Linked DNA regions of Homo sapiens. The protein of the gene in region 2 purifies or fractionates together with the protein of the main gene of each other region. This does not show direct contact. Each region holds a gene or a part of one and is shown on either strand. Other genes may lie near its edges. The genes, in order: RAP1A, KIFAP3 and GAP43.

What was found.
Region 1: the proteins of KIFAP3 (region 2) and RAP1A purify together in Homo sapiens (affinity purification with mass spectrometry; 2 studies listed by BioGRID and IntAct, with this or other methods). This does not show direct contact.
Region 3: the proteins of KIFAP3 (region 2) and GAP43 purify together in Homo sapiens (affinity purification with mass spectrometry; 2 studies listed by BioGRID and IntAct, with this or other methods). This does not show direct contact.

The regions. Positions count from the first base shown.
Region 1 is NC_000001.11:111,618,289-111,621,888, reverse strand, and holds the start of RAP1A (ras-related protein Rap-1A precursor), read right to left. Parts: upstream 2,101-3,600; 5' UTR 1,955-2,100; exon of another isoform or gene 1,491-1,954; intron 1-1,490. UniProt on the Homo sapiens protein: Counteracts the mitogenic function of Ras, at least partly because it can interact with Ras GAPs and RAF in a competitive manner. Together with ITGB1BP1, regulates KRIT1 localization to microtubules and membranes.
Region 2 is NC_000001.11:170,064,476-170,068,212, forward strand, and holds part of KIFAP3 (kinesin-associated protein 3), read right to left. Parts: exon of another isoform or gene 3,029-3,737; intron 1-3,028. UniProt on the Homo sapiens protein: Involved in tethering the chromosomes to the spindle pole and in chromosome movement. Binds to the tail domain of the KIF3A/KIF3B heterodimer to form a heterotrimeric KIF3 complex and may regulate the membrane binding of this complex.
Region 3 is NC_000003.12:115,717,477-115,719,950, reverse strand, and holds part of GAP43 (neuromodulin), read right to left. Parts: intron 1-2,474. UniProt on the Homo sapiens protein: This protein is associated with nerve growth. It is a major component of the motile 'growth cones' that form the tips of elongating axons. Plays a role in axonal and dendritic filopodia induction.

The DNA.
Region 1 (3,600 bases), about 58 Mb from region 2:
CCATACAAAAAGTGAACAAAGGCTTTTGAGCTGTTTTAATATGGAACTGTGTAACACTGAGGGATTCCATCCAGTTCACTTCTAAGACATAAGTTCATGGTTGGCCTCAGAGGGTCCCTAAAACTAATGCAAAATTTTGTGAATAAATGCCTATTAACTTTATTCTGGGGAGAGAGTTTATATATTTCATCATATTCTCAAAGGTGTCAGTGGCCTAGAAAAGGTTAAGAATTACTATCTTACAAACTGGAAATGGACTGCAGTATCCTAATATAGGGTACCTCTCAAAAGGACAGAAGATTTAATAACTAGACTCATCTTTGTAATCATTCAATTCATTCAACAAATACTTAACACGTATGATCCTCAATACCTAACAGCTAATCGTATCTGAAGTAGGCCATAATTTAAAACACCAAGAAAACTAGACAGGATTCACTGAAATATCACGCTACAAAAGAATATCGAACTATATGATTTCAAAACAACAATGTTATAGGAAAGCATAATAAAGACAGAAAGTCTGGGGCCTAATTTAATGCTTATTATGTCAAAGTATCACAGAAATAAATTACATCACAAGGAAAGAAAAACTACACATAGGCATGTCCACCCCCACACATTCTGACAGGAAACCCAAAGAAAGTTTCCAAATCCTGTTTCCAGCAGCATCTCTTCTGAGACGGCCCTTCATGCTTTTGAAGGTAGGAGCCCCAAGTTAAATCTAAGAGCTGATACTTTATTCTTACTGTAATCAAAACAAAAACATCATCCGCCACCTAAGAAGAGTGGCTGGCTACCTGTAGGGCTGTGGCTCATTGACCTTCTGCTCTATTATTCTATTTCATTTCTTATACCTCCTCCCTTCAAAGAAGTAACAAAATGATTTTCCCTCCCAAAACAGAATGCATTACTCCTCAATGGCAGTTCTTTTTCCAAGAGGTCAAAGGTTCCCTAAACTCTGGTTCTCAGCCCTAAGAGGAGATCCCATTTTGTAGGCACAAATGTCTTCCTCTCATCTTCTCCCCGTAGCAGTAAATTACACAACTCGGCTGAAGACACCGTCCTTAACTTCCTGATTAAGGGGGCAAGAGATACTCTTACCAAGCCGCTAGTTTGAAGGATAACAAGAATCACACCGTGACCTCTTCCCTAACAAAATTCAGGGAAGAAGCAGAGACCCATGAAAAGTAACACTGAAAAGGCGAACACATGGTAAGCTACGGAAGACATGAGGGTAAAGAAGGCGGGAAAGGGGCTGGAAGGTGGAGTGGGATGTAGATGTCAGCCCTATTAACTGGGGGAATAAAGGAAGGAAAGGGAGACCCTGAACCCTGACAGAAGTGAGCCCGGAGACAGCAATGCTCCAGTCTACCCGCACTCCTACAGCAGAGGACAGAGAATTCACCCAACCCTCCAACCCCGTTCCCCGTGTGTCCCTCCCCCCCGCCCCCGCGGGCCCAAAAGGGAGAGCTGGGTTTGAAGGAAGCTCTGACCCTAGACAGGGGACATGCAAGAGGAGGAAGGCAGCGATGTCCAACCTTCTACTTCTCTCAGGCAGTGAGGTACGAGGGCACCGTGTCTGGGGAGACGGCGAGGGAAATGGGCTTGTGCTATGACACCTCGGGGAGCTGAAGGGTGGGGGACACAATGTCCTCTTTCTCTCCCACAGCCGGCCGGGGCCCCTCCCGACGGTCTCCCGCAGGCCTACAGTCGACCGGGTCGGTCCGCGGGCGTGGTTGGCTCTGGCCCTGGCGGCGGCCGGGCCTCCCAGATCTCCGGCCCCTCCCGCCGGCCAGGCCCCCGGGCCGCCGCCCCGACACCGATGGAACGCGGAGGAGGAAGGGGGAGCCAGGCGACTGACCGGCGACATGAGCCGCCTCACCCTCGGCTCGGCCGACCCGCGCCCCCCGCTCCCTCTGGGGCCGTCTGGAGCTCCCCGCCCCTTACTCACCCCCCCGGTCCGGCGCCTCCTCCACCTCCTCCACCTCCTCCACCTCCTCCTCCTCCTCCTCCCTCCTCTCGGCCGTGGCTCCTGCTCCGGCTCTGCGCGGCGACAGCAGCGGGAGCGGCGGCGGCAGGGGCCTCGGGAGCGGCGGCGGCGCCTCCTCCAGAACGCGCACGCACGCACCACGCAGGCCCCGCCCCCTGGTTCTGCCCCGCCCCTCCAAGTTGGCGATGGCTGGGCTTCGGCCCCGCCTTCCCCACGGCGTTCCGGAGTCCGCTTAAAGGAGCCGCGCACACTGGAGCCGGGAAAGCCTGGAGCTACCGGGAAGGGGCGGGGAGTTTTAGCTTTGCGTAGGGCGGGATGGGAGGTGGGTAAGACCGGAAAAAAGATGAGGAAGGGTCCAAAGATTCAAGAAGAGAATTTGGAGGGAACTCAATCATTCGACAAGCCCTAATTGAGCACCTGTTAGGTTCCAGGCGCTGTTCTAACTAAGCGCAGAGGTTTAAAGTCATAGACAGGCAAAGACCCTCTTGCAGCTTGCATGCTGGTGGAGTGAGAGAGGGGAGACAGACAACAAACAAGTGACAAAAATTGCAGGTAGTGATAAGTGGTGTGGAGAAAAATAAAGCAGAGGATAGGGTGACTTTACACCTGGTGAGATACTGCCTCTCAAAGAAGACCTTTGAGCGCATACACACGGGATGAAGGAATAAGTCTTGCAAACACGCGGGCCTGGAGGAGGAATAGCCTTTCCAAGCTGAGAGAAAATCAGCCATAAACCCAGAGGTGGGGATACGCCTGCCATGTTGCAGAAACAGTGAAAGGCCGGCATGGCTGAGCAGCGTCAGCCAGCCCGAGAGCAGTACCAGCTAGGCTTGGCCAGATCCAGTGAAGCCTGTGGGCCATTATAACAGGAACGGGAAACCATGAGAGAAGGGTGAGCCGAGGAATGACCGCATCTGATTCATGTTGTTAAAAGTTAGTCTTGCTGATGTGTGTAAAATACACAATGGAGAAGCACAGATGTCCTTGGGATACCAGTAAGGTAGCTTGGACTAACTAGCCTGGCAGCCACGGACAGGATGAGAAGAAGGCTATTTTATTTTATTTTATTTTATTTAGATACATTTTGATTGGAATGGATTTGGATTTGGGGCATAGTGTGTGAAAGAACAAAAAGAAATCAAGAGTTGATTCTTAGGTTCGGGCCTGATGACTGAGTTAATGGCGGTGCCACTTAATGAAATGGAGGAGCAGATTTGGGGATGGGGAAATCAAGAGTCTTTTCTTACACATGTTATGTTTAAGGTGTCTGTTATACATCCAAATGGAGATATTGAATAAACAATCGATATATGAGTCTAGAGAGATACATTTGGGATTCATTAGCAAATAGATACTTTTTAAGTCTTAAGTCTAGTTAGGATCACATGGGGAGGGGAGATAGCTGAAGGAAAGGACCAAGAGGCACTCCAACACTTGAAGGTTAAGTAGAAAAGGAGGCGCTACCAGTCAGGGCAGGAGAAACACCAAGAGAAGGTGAAGCGTTGGAAAACAAGATAATTGTTTCAGGAAGGAGAGAGTGAAGAGTCTTATCAGATACTGCTGAAATTAGTAAGATAAGGACTGAGAATTTGAACACTGGATGTGGC
Region 2 (3,737 bases):
TCCAAGTAGCTGGGACTACAGGCATGCACCACCATGCCCAGCTAAGTTTTGTATTTTTTATAGAGATGGGGTTTCAACATATTGCCCAGGCTAGTCTTGAACTCCTGGGCTCAAGCGATCCACCAGCCTCAGCCTCCCAAAGTGCTGGGATGACAGGCATGAGCCAACACACCTGGCTAGTTTCCTCATTTAATATGTTTATATCATAATTCCCTTTTATTTATGGCTTTAGTTTTTTCCTTAAATCATGAATGTGTAGTGAATGTCATCAAATGTTTTTCTGCATCCATTGGAGGATCATGTATTGTTCTTCTTTAATTCATAAATATACTACATCAAATTCATTAAATACATAAAACCATACTCATATTCTTAGAATAAGCACAACTTGTTAATGCTGTCTTAAAGCACTGTTAGATTAAATTTGCATCCTTGCTCATTCAGCCTGCAATTTTCCTTTCTAATGTCCTTTTTCTGACTTTCATATGGAGATTATTCTAAAATCTTAATATAAATTAGTTGAGGAGTATCCTTTTTTTTCTAGACTTCTTGGAAGAGTTGTACATAATTGGAAGCATCTGTTTCCCAAAAATTTTGTTAGAATTTGACTTTAAAACTGTCTGGATGTAGCAGATTTTATCAGTATGAAATACTCCTCTGTAGTTTTTACAGTATACGTTTTCTTAAAGCCTATTTTATCTGACATTAATATGGTCATTTTAGCATTCTTATGCTTACTGTTTGATTGCACCCATTTACCATTAACTTACCATGTCCATACTTAAAAGTATATTTTTTGGGGATGACAGATAGTTGGGTCTTGCTTTTCTTTTTTCTTTATAAAAGAAATATTGGTGGCCGGGCGCAGTGGCTCACGCCTGTAATCCCAGCATTTTGGGAAGCCGAGGTGGGTGGATCATGAGGTCAGGAGATCGAGACCATCCTGGCTAACATGGTGAAACCCTGTCTCTACTAAAAAATACAAAAAATTAGCTGGGCATGGTGGCGGGCACCTGTAGTCCCAGCTACTTGGGAGGCTGAGGCAGGAGAATGGCGTGAACCCGGGAGGCGGAGCTTGCAGTGAGCCAAGATCATGCCACTGCCCTCCAGCCTGGGCGACAGAGCAAGACTCCACCTCAAAAAAAAAAAAAAAAAAAAAAAAAAGAAATATTGGTAATCTCTGCCTTTCCATTGGAACATTAAAACCTATGCTGTCTGATACAATAGTCACTAGCTACATGGGTCTATTTAAAATTAAATTTAAATACATTACATTTTAAAAATAATTAAAAATGCAATTCCTTAGCTGTACTAACCACGTTCAAAGTGTTCATTAGCCATACAGCCAGTGGCTATGTATTTGATGATGCAGCTGTAAGTCATTTCCATCAGGGAAGAAAGTTCTATTGGACATTATTGTTTTGGATCATTTAATGCAATGACTGACATACTTAGATTCAGATCTATCACTTCATTTTTATTTCCTGTTTGGCCCAACTATACTTTGATTATTTTCCTAACAGCCTTGTGAATTATTATTTTTTAAATTCCATTTTGTGTAGATGTTTTCACTATACTTTTAAAAACTGTTTTTGGTGGTTGCTTTAGGAAAAACAATGTTTTAGTTACCTTTTTTTTTTCACAAGGTATTTAAGAATTAATGCTGTGCTACTTCACAAATTGCAGGTCTATTGCCTACACCCCCCCCCCCATTCTTTATGTTATAGCTGTCATATGCATTATGTGTACATACCTTATAAACTCACACAAAAATTTCATAATTTTTGCTTTCAAGTCATATGTATTTTTAAAAAATTAAGAGGGAAATAATCTCTTATATGTACTCAAATATTTATAATTCCTGATGCTTTTCATATTGGTAAAACCAAAACAAGTTTTATATTTCTATTACTAACATTAGACTTGGTAATAGAGAAACAGAGGATTAAGGTAATTCAAACCAATGCACCTTCTAAGAAAATCTTAAAAGCTGGGGGCAAAAACACGTATGTGTGTATCTGTTTGAGGCCATAAGAGAACTAAAAAGGCACAAAAAATTACAGTGCCAAGATCCAGGAGAAAAAGAAAATGAAGAGAGGTAAATCTTGAATTTGAGGCTACTTTTCCCTAGAGGTATCTGCTAACTGAAAAGAGAGGGCTGAGAGGTTGAGAATCTTTTAATAATCACATGAGGCTAGAGACACAAAAACTGGATTCTAGAGTGCACCAAACAACAGTGGCTCTGGTAAAGCTCCAAGCTTTAAGCTTGAAACAGGAGGACTACCTCCTAGGAGTAACTGTGAAACAGATGCAGATCGGTCACCAACAAGACTAAAAAGCCCAGTTTAATGTAATTGAATCTCTGAGAACTAATTAAGGTGACCCTAAATTTTCAGTAATCCTTACTAACATAAATAAAATATAATCTTCTCTGGAAAAAGAGAACATCATCCTGAGCCTCAAATGATTATTTATACATTTATATTCCTATATATGATACTCAAAGAATAGTCATCTTCAGAAAAAACTAGATAATTTTTTTAAATTTCTAGAATTAAAAATACAATAACCAAAATTAAGAATAATAATAAATAAATAGGTTTAATAGCAGATTAGATACGGGTAAGGAGATAATTTATGGCATAAAATATAAGTCAGAAGAAAACACCCAGAATAAAACATAGAGACAAAAAGATGTAAAACACAAGCAAAAGTATAATTCAGCAATGCATACTGAGTAGGTCTAGCATATGTACTTGAAGTCCCAGAAAAAAGGTGAGAGAGAATGGGTACAGAGCAATATATGAAAAGATAATGGCTAAGTGACATCAGTGAAAACGGCAGAGTAGGGACCTCTAGAGGCTGGCACTCCCCAGAAGCACTAAAAACTTGGCAAAAAAAACCTATCACAATCAACCTCATCAGAACTCTGGAAGACAGTCAAAGGTTTACAGCAACCAAGTGAATGTTTAATCAGAAGAAAGGTTACAGAAACAAGGTAGGCGATCATTATGGTCTTTTCACTTACCCTAGACATCCACCCCACTCTCAAGCACAGTGGCAGTCTTCAAGATGGCAGCCCACGTTCCCACTGTTAATACTTGGTTCTAGAGGAGTCAAGTGGACCTTGCTCCCAAGGAATTTTGTCTGATTGTTTTGCAACTGACTGAAGTTTCCTTTGAGGTCAGCTGCAAGGGGCTTTCCTTTGTTTTGACTAATTTTAAACTCTTATCAGGATAGTGCAGCTATGCAGTCACTGAAATCAGTGAAAGCCAAGCATACAAGCTGCTGGCCCCTGGGATAAATAGTAATAGCTGGGTCAAACAAAACACAAGCTGAAAGCCCAAGAGGAAAGTCCAGGGAGTCAGACATTTTGGGGGAATAGATGCTTTGAAAAGCTATTGCATATAAAGAGAAATCTAGAAATCCATGAGCATGCTCAGGGCAGAATACATACCCAGAAAAAACCTGGGAAGATCATAAGCTTTTACCTCTGGCTGGTCTTCAGGCTCTGTGCAAGCAGCAAATGAAGGCTAAGGTAAAATTGTAAATTGCCTGGCTAAGTGTTGAAGCCATATCCAAACACTGAGTCAACCTACAAAGATCTGAAGAGTATTTTTTTCTTTTCTTTTTTTCCTTTGGATACCATAATATTCAAAATACCCAGTTTTCAACAAAACAAAATATGAAACATGCAAAGAAACAAGAAACTCATTCTCATTCTCACAATAAAAAAA
Region 3 (2,474 bases), on a different chromosome or scaffold from region 2:
AAATTTTCCCTTTGTTTCCCGACAGAACTCAGTCAACTGATTTTATGCTCCCTGATAGTTTACTAATATGCTAGCTTGTGGAAAAAGAATTCATTTGCTCTGAAACAACTTGTGTTGCCAAACAATCAACTCCCTGTGTCAGTGTCCCCCAAGACCACCCCTAGGTTCAGTGATTTGCTAGGAGGACTCATGGGACTCAGCATGCAGTCTGCTTCATAACTAAAATTTATTGCAGCGAAAAAACACAAAGCAAAATAAGCAAAGCTGAAAGTTGCGCATGGGCAAAGTTTGGAGGAAACCAAACAAATTTCTAAGAGTCTTCTCCCCATGGAGTCACCCAGGATGTGCTTAATTCTTTCAGCAATAAATTACCATAACACATGGAAGATGTCATCTATTAGGGAAGTTTAACTGAGTGAGTTTGCACTGGTAATAGGTCATGTAGGCACCCTCCAGCAAGCAGGTACAAAATTCAGACTCCCAGAAGAAAAATAGATGTTCAGCATAAACCACATTGTTTGTACTATGATTTTAGGCACCTGGAACCACTCTTATCAGTTAAGGAATGATGAGAATCTTCTCAAAATCCAAGATCCCAGATGCCAGCCAATGGTCAACTTTACAAACAAGCCTTTCTAAGGATAGCAGTCCCAGGCCTACTGTATTAACTGTTTTTTTTTTTCCTCAATCCCTGATATTGACGATGCCTCTGTCTTAAAATGGAGCTATTGTTATTGCTTGTCCTCCTCTTAACAACTACTAGGTGCTGATTATTCTTGGAAAGGTAAACTGGAGTCCATGTAATTTTGTTAGGCTAACAAATTTGTGTTTAATTAGAAGATAACAGACATAGCTTGAAAGCACTTGAGCAAGGAACATAATACAGCTATGCTTTGAGGAGATTAAACTAGGAATACTAAATAAAATAGTTTTACTGTACATAGATGTTGAGATTAGAGAAATGGGGTCATTAAGGAGACCATTAAAAGAGCTCATCAAAATGTATGTCTCTTTTAAATCAGCCAGCTACATATTTACATTCAGATGAAGCTGAACATTTATACCCACCATTATTAAACAAATTTATGGAATTTCTTCTCTGAAATACCTATCAAAAAACATTCTTTTAGAGCTCTTCAGTAGCAGAAATGCTTATTTTTTGAAAATAGGTTAGGTTTTTAGAATCTAACTAGACTAGTCTGGTAAATAAAGTAAGCAGCTACGATGGGTAATTTTACCTTATAATACTCACTTTTGACCAGGGTTTTAAAGTCTGACTTATTTTATAGGGTTCATAACTCACTATAAGCTATTCATAAAATATAGCTATTCTAGTGATGCTACCTACTACTACTTATAAGATTTTTTTAAGGCTATAGCTTTCCAAAGTGACTGTAATTACCTGTTGAACACAGTGCACCTATCCAAGTTTTGCATGAAACTAACTCAATTCTGATCATTATAATACACTATGCATCAGCAGTATTCCTCAGGAATTACAAAAATTTTGGTGTGCTAATGAGGTATTTAATTTTCTACCAGAAGAAAGATTCCAGATTTATTTCAGTGAAGTCCTTCTAAAACAATTAGGAATTCTTTTGGAGAGTTTGCTTGGTTCCCTAACCCTGCTCAAACCTTTGGATATTACAAGTATGCCCAAGGTAGTTTACCATCCTTATCAGTTCCAAGAAGCAATGTTTTTAGTGCCCTTTTCAAACTGCAAAATAAACATAATATTGATTTACACAACCCAGAAACATATAGAAAGATAGTAGTTATAGGAACAAGAGAAGACTTCAAATCTCTCCTTCCAAAATAAAGACATGGGAGCTATTATGTATGCTTAGAGGGAGATTAGGAAATGAGAGAAAAAGGGAAGTAGACTGGGAAAGGTGAGAATTGCATGTTTGTTGAATAAAGGGAATAAAACTCAAAAATGCAGAAACAGAAACTTGAACATTCAGATGGTTCTGAGATGCAGCTACACTTTCTGTTCCCTTGTTGGAATACAATCAAGCTAAATCCTCCCAAATTCTCCCACTTTCTCTTGTCATCCATTGCCTGGTCCTAGGACAAAAGACGAAATTTGGCACAAATCTGTTTATTATGACAGGAAATTATGAAGCTCTATTGAGAGAGCCTCAATATATATTCATTTTCTCAAATGCTTCAAAGTATTTTAAATGTAAATATTTATTAATTTATTTGTTCAATAAGTTGTTACTGGACACCTGCACTGTGCCAGGCATTCTTCTAGGTACTGAGAAAAAAAAAAAAAAAAGCAAAATCCTTGCTCTCCTTAAAGCCTTTCATAATATACCTTTAAAAGACAATAAAATTCAGGCTGGGTGCGGTGGCTCACACCTGTAATCCCAGCACTTTGGGAGGCTGAGATGGGTGGATCACCTGAGGTCAGGAGTTCGGGACCAGCTTGGCCAAAATGGTGAAACCCCGTCGCTACTAAAAATATAAAA